2 separate regions of the Homo sapiens genome follow, and region 2 is linked to region 1. The links come from fine-mapping of genetic effects on gene expression. A gene starts in region 1. The other region holds a variant in brackets. All regions are shown on one strand. Distances are between the middles of the regions. Region 1 holds the start of TMEM164 (transmembrane protein 164). Region 2 overlaps TMEM164 (transmembrane protein 164).

The links. PIP is the estimated chance that this variant, and not a neighbour inherited with it, causes the effect. A credible set is the group of variants that fine-mapping cannot tell apart.
Region 2: its variant is the best candidate, but not a certain one, in a credible set for the expression of TMEM164 in subcutaneous fat (GTEx, PIP 0.80).

The regions. Positions count from the first base shown.
Region 1 is chrX:110,000,842-110,005,229 of GRCh38, reverse strand. TMEM164 (transmembrane protein 164) reads right to left here and starts at 2,116. Exons shown (of 7, transcript NM_032227.4): 1 at 2,052-2,116; 2 at 1,066-1,729. The coding sequence starts at 1,455. RefSeq lists an enhancer at 1,254-1,909 and a silencer at 2,012-2,871.
Region 2 is chrX:110,123,745-110,128,132 of GRCh38, reverse strand. The region is part of intron 4 of TMEM164 (transmembrane protein 164); the gene reads right to left. Among named protein-coding and RNA genes, the nearest start is that of MIR3978, 44 kb to the right of the region's middle. The variant G/T (reference allele first, on the strand shown) is at 1,783.

The DNA of each region.
Region 1 (4,388 bases):
CCCAAGCTAGGCTGTCACAAGTCTCCAAAGAATAACCTTCTACAAACATAAAGGCAGTAAAGATGCTAATGACAGGTTTCAAAACTGCCCCTGAATAAAACACACCCGGTTTTCCACAGCCTGAAATCTAAAAAAGACTGATTGCTCTCCCAGTCTCCTCTTCCTCCTCCTCCATGATTTTATAGCTTTAGAACATCTCTCCACACAGGCTGAATACAGACAGTCTCACTCTTGGTCCTCACCCAGATTATTTTTATGTATCTGGCAACTTGCCTTTTCAATCCCATTTGTTTTCCTTAGCACCGCTAATGGGTGGAAGTCGATGAGGTAAAGAAATCAGCTTCCTAAGCACCCTTGGACTATGACCATAGGAGACAGAATGACAGTAATAGGATGGAGAGGTTTGCAAAAAAAGAAATACCCTCTCACCATAGTGATCACCAGCCCAAAGTACACATGTCAGCCTGGGGACCTGCTTCAGAACTCATTTAGTAGGAGCTTGGTGCTGCTCCAATGCCTCAAAATGCAAAGGCAGACCTCACTCTAAGAGCATACACTCCCAAATGAAAGAGTCATTAAGAGAAACCTGTAAAAGTATTTCCCCAAAGTACCACAGTGTAGATGAGAAAGTTTATGCGACCACCTCCAGGAAAGAGTGTCACCAGGCCCCTGGGAAATTAACTACCACAGAAGGCAAGGGAGCTGGGTCATGGTCCACTGATGTGATTCAGAAAGGGCACCTGGCTGGGGCTGGAATTCCTGCTTGTGAAAGCCCAGGGCACGGCAGGGTTGGGCTGGGCTGGAAGGGAGGGGCAGCCAGGGTGAGTGCCAGTCGTTCCTAGGGTTCAGGCACAAGGTTCCTCACCTCCACTGTGGGGCTGACGCACTGTGCAAAGGTGAAAGAAAGCCAAACCTGAAATCGGCACAAAGGCAGCCACTCGTTGGAAAATCATTTTTAAAGGTCCCCCTGCCCGCCGGGATGAGGTGCTGTACACTATGGAGTGTCCTGAGCACATAAATGACTCTTATCACTTAGGATGCCCAGGAAAAAGTCAACAGACTCACATGCATCATGGTGACCAGGTGACAGGGGTTGAGCAGGTAGATGACGGTCTTGGTGGCGAACTTAAAGCCCACCTCCACCCCGAAGGTCAGGCACAGGGCTACTAAGAGCAGATTCTTGCTCAGGCTCTCCTTGCCTTCCTCTGGCCGCTGGGTCACCTGCTCTGGCTGGCTGCCAGGGCTACCCCTACCGTCCTCCTTCGTCTGCCTCAGGATGTGCCGCAGGGCCACCAGGATCTCCAACAGAGCCAGGGTCAGGACCACCACACTTTCCAGCAGCCGCTGCTGCCAAGAGAGGAAGGCAGCACAGTCGGGGCCCCCATTGCCTGCAAAACTGGGGTCCACGCCCCCATAGAGCCAGTCCAGGAGACTCTGGTAGCTATACCGGGACATGATGCAGTGGTTCCCCTTGACCACAGTACAGGAAGCAAGAGTGAGATGGAACACAAGCCCAGAGGGTTGCCCGGGTGGTGGACCATGTAAGGCGGGCACACCCCCACAACCCCCCTCCAGACACCAGGGCACCGAGAGTAGGGGAGGGGAAGCTACACGCAAGGCCCGGGGTAAAGTGCTGGCTCTAACTTGTCCCCACGGCTGTCTGGGGGAGCCCCCCGCGCTTCTCCAGTGGCCACCAACGAGGCAGGGTTGAAAGGAGCCGTTGGCCAATCTAAAAGGAAGGAGAGGAAAAAAAAAAAAAAGAGGTCTCAAAGAGGCAATTGCACCGGGAATTAGGAAGCGGGAGGGGTAACTAGCGAGGGAAGAAAACGGGAACGGGGCAGTGGCGAAGCAAGCAGGGGTCAGGGGAAGCCGGAGGCCGAAAGGGTCAGGGCGGGGGCCAAGGAGACCCGGCAGTGCTGCGGCAGCGAACCGGGAGCCAAAAGGGGTCAGAGCTAGGGGACACGCGGAGGCAAGGAGAGGAGCTAGCGGGGCCGAGCAGGCGGGGAGGGCGACGGGGATGGCAGGGACGCCGGACTCCTCGTCTCACGCACTCGCCACAGAGGGATCTCTTACTCCTGCAACCGCGTGGCCGTCTCTGCCCCCAGCTAGCAACTTCGCCGCCGACGGGCCCCTCCAGCCAATTTAGAGCCGTCCTTGTCCAGCCTCCCGCCCCCGGGTACACCCCCGAACCCCCAGCTCCACCCTCCGGCCCTAGACGCCCGCCCTCCGGGCAGCACCACCCCCAGCCCGCGGCCCGCCCGGGACCTGCCCCCCTCGCGCAGGCAGCGGAGGGAGGAAGCCAGAGGGAAGGCGGGAGGCCGGGCCAGCCGGGGGCTGGACTAAAGCCGGCCCCTGGACTAAAGCCGGCCCCCCTCCCTCCTCCCCGGCGCCGCAACCTCCCGCGCCTCCCGCCCAGCCCCGGGGACCGGCCGCCGCGCCCCTCGGGGCTTCACTCACCGGCAGCTCGGCCCGCGGCCCCGGATCGGGCTACTGCTCCGCTCCCGCGCTCTCCGCGCCGGGCGCTCGGTTCCCCTGGCGGCCGCCGCCGCGGCGCACGGCTCCTCCTCCCCGTCTTCCTCCCCCTGCAGCAGCCGCGCTCGCTTCCTCCTTCTTCCCCTCCCTCTCTCCTCCCCCTCCCCGCTGCCACCGCCACTGCCTCCCTCCTCCCGTCCAGTTCAGCTCTCGCCCCACCACACGCCCTCGGGCCACGACTACTCCTCCTCGCCTCCTTCCCTTTTCTGCCTCTGGCACTCCCCTCACCCGTCCACCATTCACACCTCCCACCCTCCGCGGCTTCGGCTCTCCCTCCTCCTCCTCCCTCCTCCTCCCTCCTCCGGCTCAGGCTCCGCCTCCTTCCGCCTCCTCCCTGGCCTGCCTCGTCTTCTGCACTCGGAGCCTGCACGCGTGCACAGCCACCCTCCTTCACAACCGTGTACAGAATTCGCCCCCTCGGTGAAGCCCTGTTGACTGGCTCCGCCTCCCGCGACCTGGTTCTCCAGGGCACTTCTTTCTATACTGCACACATAGTAGGCACTTAGCTGGCCCGCACTAACTTCTTGTGGGGGAATAAGCCTTTCTAGTAATGAGCAGCTTGGCTTCGGGGTGTGTGCTGGGTATGGCCGGCTCCTCTTCGCGATTCCTCCTTTCTGCCACGACTCATGCAAGGCCAGAAAGGCATCTTCTCTCCCCTTTCTAGCCACAGCCCCACTCCACACTTCAGTGCCTAGGACAGGAGCTTCATTTCCCTGCTCCTCCCCCTCCTGCTCTGATCCACTATTTTCTCTCTACCTCTTGCCACACAGACCACCCCTGCCACACCCTCTCCCTCTCCCACTTCTCTCCTTTCTCCTGACAGGCCTTCAATGGTAGGCCAGTGGGAGGAAGGGAGGCTTCCCGTGACCTCTTTCCCTCCCCCTCTTCCCCCCTTCCCCCTCCCCAGAGCAGTTGCTTCCTAACCTATGCGTGGAAAAGCCAGCCAGGACTATATGAGTGTGGAGGAGCAGCACTAAGCCCAAAACCTGGATAAGGGCAACTGACGGAAATAAAATCCCCTCTTCCTACCTGCTGCTTTTTACCGATCGGCTATTTGCTTTTCTTGAGACAAGGGTCAGTAAAAGGACCTTCTCAGGACCTTCCTCATGTTTATTTAATATTTATTGAAGACTCACGATGAGTTAGAAGAATATCCAGAAAAACACAGTTAGGCACCTTGCCTAGGAAACACTTTTGGATGTTGGCTGCAAGCCAGGCTCAAAACATAAAATGCAATCTACTGTATTATCAGGCCATCGCCCTCCCGTTTTTTCCAAGTCTGGTTTTCCGAACAAGTACAGCCAGGTAGCCTTGTCTGACTCCAAGTTTTGTACAACATCTACCATAGGCCTGATGTTCTCCAAGTGTCAGAGGCGTTAGAACCAGAGCGACTCCATCTTGAACAGGGCCTGGATAAAATGACGCTGAGACCTACTGAGCTGCATTCCCAAAAAGTTAGGCATTCCAAGTCACGGGATGAGATAGGAGGTCGGCACAAGATTATAGGTCACAAAGACCTTGCTGATAAAACAGGATGCAGTAAAGAAGCCGGCCAAACCCCACTAAAACCAAAAAGGTGATGACAGTTACCTCTGGTCGTCCCCACTGCTCATTATATGCAAATTATAACGCATTAGCATGCTAAAAGTCACTCCCACCAGCGTCCAGAAGTTACCCTATATGGTCTGAAAGGGGGAGGAACCCTCAGTTCTGAGAATTGCCCACCCCTTTCCCAGAAAACTCATGAATAATCCACCCCTTGTTTAGCATATAATCAAGAAATAACCATAAGAATTATCAGTTGAGCAGCCCAAGCTGCTACTCTGCCTATGGAGTAGCCATTCTTTATTCCTTTA
Region 2 (4,388 bases), 120 kb before region 1:
TCTCCCTTTGGTCACCAGAGTATTCTTCAAATTAGTTGAGACTTATAGGTCTTAGGTTCTAAAGAAAAATAAGTACTTTTATTACTTAGGGGTTATCTGAATTTTTGCATCCATGCCAGTCTGAATTCTTAAGACCATAATGGGTTTTAGGAACATACGTTTAGTGGACCAATGGGTAACTTGTGCATGCAGGGCCCAGCCCATGCATACCTGGCTGCTTTTATAAGGACCATGAGTGCACCTAGCATGCTCTATCATACGCAGGGTCCATGGCCCTCTTTCAATGGCAGCTTGCTGATACAGGACACATATTTGTGCTGTGGTTATTTTAGTTATTGGAAGGAGGTGATGGGAATCCTGTCTCTCCCCTGATCAGAGAAGGTGGAGCTCCCCCAATTCTGGCTAGAGTGTGGGGACCCTAGCTCTTCCTCTACCTGGACTACTTGCTGTTCCTTTCCCCCTCCTACACTGTGGGGCCGAGTTAGTGAAATTAAAACATGTCTGTATATCTCAACTAAGGGCCCACTCAGTTAAAGGAAAAAGAATCTTCTCTCACTTCCATCTTTGGAAGCAGGAGTTGAGTTGTGGTTGTTTTGTTTTGTTTTGTTTTGTTTTGTTTGAGACGGAGTTTTGCTCTTGTTGCCCAGGCTGGAGTGCAATGGTGCGATCTTGGCTCACCACAACCTCCGCCTCCCAGGTTCAAGAGATTCTCCTGCCTCAGCCTCCCGAGTAGCTGGGATTACAGGCATGAGCCACCATACTCGGCTAATTTTTGTATTTTTAGTACAGACGGGGTTTCTCCATGTTGGTCAGGCTGGTCTCGAACTGCCAACCTCAGGTGATCTGCCCGCCTCAGCCTCTCAAAGTGCTGGGATTACAGGCATGAGCCACCACACCCGGCCAGGAGTGACCCTTTAACCACACTAAAACACCTTGCTAGGACGAGACTCTGGATGGTACTTCCTCAGGACAGCTCTCACCATGCATCTGCCAACAGCACCCCCTGGTCCCTGCTCCATATGGAGAGCTGCCATTCCCTTGCTCAAAACTGGAAACAGAAGGCACCTTTGGCCCAAGTTACAGTTGACCTCTGGCCTAGTTTGGAGACCAAGACACAGTTATGTACAGTGCATGTGGCATAAGGCACAAATGGGAGTTGCTCAATTCTTTCAGCACCACCTAGTTGACCTACAAATTGACCTTCTCTTCAATCAGTCATATATTGAACACCCACTCCATGAAGAACCTTATGTTCTTCCCACCAACACCACACACACACACACACACACACACACACACACACACACACACACACACACACAGGAGTGGCCCAGCCAGGAAATAAACCTAGAAAATAGATTTATTTTCTAGAAAATCCCTGAACCCATCCTCAACAACTACACTAAGGTGAGATTTGCTGGTTGCCAAGTCCCATCCACATGTAAGGAATTCTTATTAGAAAAGGTTGAAAAGATAGGAAACACATGTAAAATCTAAACTATAAACTATAAGGGCTAAAAGACAGGACAGAAGCAGTGTCCCAGGAGATCGCTAAAGCCCTCTGCATGGATTCCTATGTTTCCATTGTTTGTGCTCCACTGTGGGCCTCGAGAAAATAGACGTGGAGAGCAGGCATTGATATCCCCTTAGAAAAGAATCCTGAAAGGCAGTAGGCTATGGATAAGTCTCTTTCCCAGCCAAAGCAAGCACAAACTCTCCAAATCACTGCTAAAGCCAACAGTCTGTAACTGTCCCAGAGCAGGAGATGCTGTGAGTCCAGAG[G/T]TGGGTGTTCCTCCTGCTTTGAGACTTACTGCCTTTGGTGGCAGGGAGAGATGTGCTCTGGATCAGGAGGAGAGGGGTGGCAGGATTCCCTCGTCCTTCTGTCAGCCCTATCTGTCCCCAGAGGGCAGCTATAGGATGACTCCCAGAGGGCACCTGTGAGCTGGGCCAGCAGCAGAGACGAACCAGGCAGCTTCTGGAAGATTCGTTCTCATCTCGTCCTCTCCATCCACCAACCAAATAGCCATTTCTAAGTTATTGCCATCTTAGAAAAACACACTCCTGGTCTAGATGAGCATGTTCAGCTTCACTGGAAGCCCCCCGCCCTGCCATTTGAGCCAACATAATTTACAATTCCCAGAAATGCCTGAGAAGCAGTGTATGCGCTTCTGCTGCCAAGCCTGGCCGGTTTTACAGATTTTCATTTAGCAGGTGTCTGTTGCTAAATCAGTAGCAGCTGCTAATTGCTTTGCCTCTCAAACCCTCAGACAGAATGAAACATCTGGTGTTCTCTCACTTCAGGTTAAAATCAGGTACCTTATCACGTCTCCTTTGAGTTCCATTTTTATTAAAAAGCTTTCAGCTGATGCCTGGAACTGGCAGCAGAGAGCAAGACCATTCCTGAACAATGGGAATGTTTCTAACACGATGTAGTGAGCCTGCCTCATGCCTCCAAACTCCGTGCACAGAAACAGAGTCACTCAGACCATTCCCCACAAGGTGGGGCTTTAGGCCCATGAGCCCAGGGAACCTGAGACTTCATCTCCTGAGCCAGGACTCTGGGGGCCCCCAGCCCTTTGATTGCAGTGCCCCTTCTTGCCCAGAATACTTTCTAGTATTTGCAACCCCCACCCGAGCCAGTTCTCCTCTCTCCTCCAGGGGAACTGCAGGGGGAAAAAACTACATACAGTGGAGGAAAATTACCAGGACGCCATCATCTGCAGCTCCACTTCCCAGTTCATACCGGTGCTCTCTTTTCAGCCACTTTGAAAGTTTTTTTGTTTTGTTTTTGTCGTTATTCCTCCCCGCAACAATCATTTCGCTGGGCTCCAAATCTGCCTCTTGATTCTAAGTCAAAGCCATTCTCAAAAGCACCTTAATAGCAACTCAAATATTTCCTATTATTATTAATAAATAATCTTAGCTAACCTTTATTGAGCATTTACTACTTTGTATCAGGCATTGTGGTAAGCACTTTACATGCATTACCTTATTAAAGATTCAGGAATTGTTATGACCGTCCTCATTTTACAATGTAAAACAGGCTCTGAGACAGGCTATTGATGCTGTAGAAGGAAGACTGGAACAGTGATTTGGCTAGATTAAAAGCCTGGGCTCTGCTGACTAGGTATCTTTGATGATTTTAAGGAATTATTGCTAGTTATTATAGGTATGATAATGGTATTGTAATGTTTATTTTTTACTGTGTCCTTACATTTCAGACATGCATAATGAAATACTTACAGTTAAAATTACATGAGATTTTCTTCCAAATAATCCAGGGATAGGTGTTTGTGTTGGGGGTGGAATGGATTTGTGGTGGAGTGAGGTGTATTGTTAAAAAGAAAAAGATGGGCTATGTGGTGACAATCATTGAAACTGGGTGACAGATGCATTAGGGAACATTTTTTCTACTTTTGTGTATGCTTTCAATTTTCTACAATATAAAATTATATACATACACTCCTGTTCTTATCCACTACATCATAGGACCTCCTAGCTTACGAAGTTTTTCCACCCCAAACTCCTTTCCTGCGTTAGCTCCTCTGGCCGGATCCTACCACCAAAGCTTCCTCAACTGGCACCCATGCAGTACCGGGACCCAGAAGTGATCACTCTTTCCTTGGACTTTCTAAAGAAACCCTCAGTTTGCCCTAAAGTCTCAGTTCACTCCACTCAAGGTCCTAGGCGTGTGGGACCTAAGGGGAGGTTGGCAGGCCACCTGTTGAGGTAAGAGATGGGCCTCAGGAGGAGCTCTGCCTACCCCCCGATTCTTTTTATGCAATGGAAAACTGAATTCATCTTGCCAGTTGGCACCCAACAAAGGATTATTTCATTGAATCCTCATAATAACTATGATGTACCTTTCTCCCTCCCTCCCTGCTTCCCTCTTTCCGTCCAGCCAGCCTGCCTTCCTGCCTTCCTGCCTGCCTGCCTGCCTGCCTGCCTTCCTGCCTTCCTTCCTTCCTTCCTTCCTTCCTTCCTTCCTTCCTTCCTTCCTTCCTTCCTTCCATTTGTTATTACAGGTTCTCACTCTGTCACCCACGCTGGAGTGTATGGCATGATCATGGCTCATGGTAACCTTGAACTGTTAGGCTCAAGTGATCCTCCTGCCTCAGCCTCCCAAGTAGGTGAGACTACAGACACATACCGCCACGCCTGGCTAATTTTTTAAAAAAAATTTTGGTAGAGACCGGTCTCACTATGTTGGCCAGTCTGGTCTCAAATTCCTGGGCTCAAGTGACCCTCCCACATCGGCCTTCTGACTAGCTGGGACTACAGGCACATGCCACCATGGCTGGCTAATTATTTTATTTTTTGTACAGACAGGGTCTCACTTTGTTGCCCAGGCTGGTCTCAACACTTCGGCTCAAGTGATCCTTCCTCCT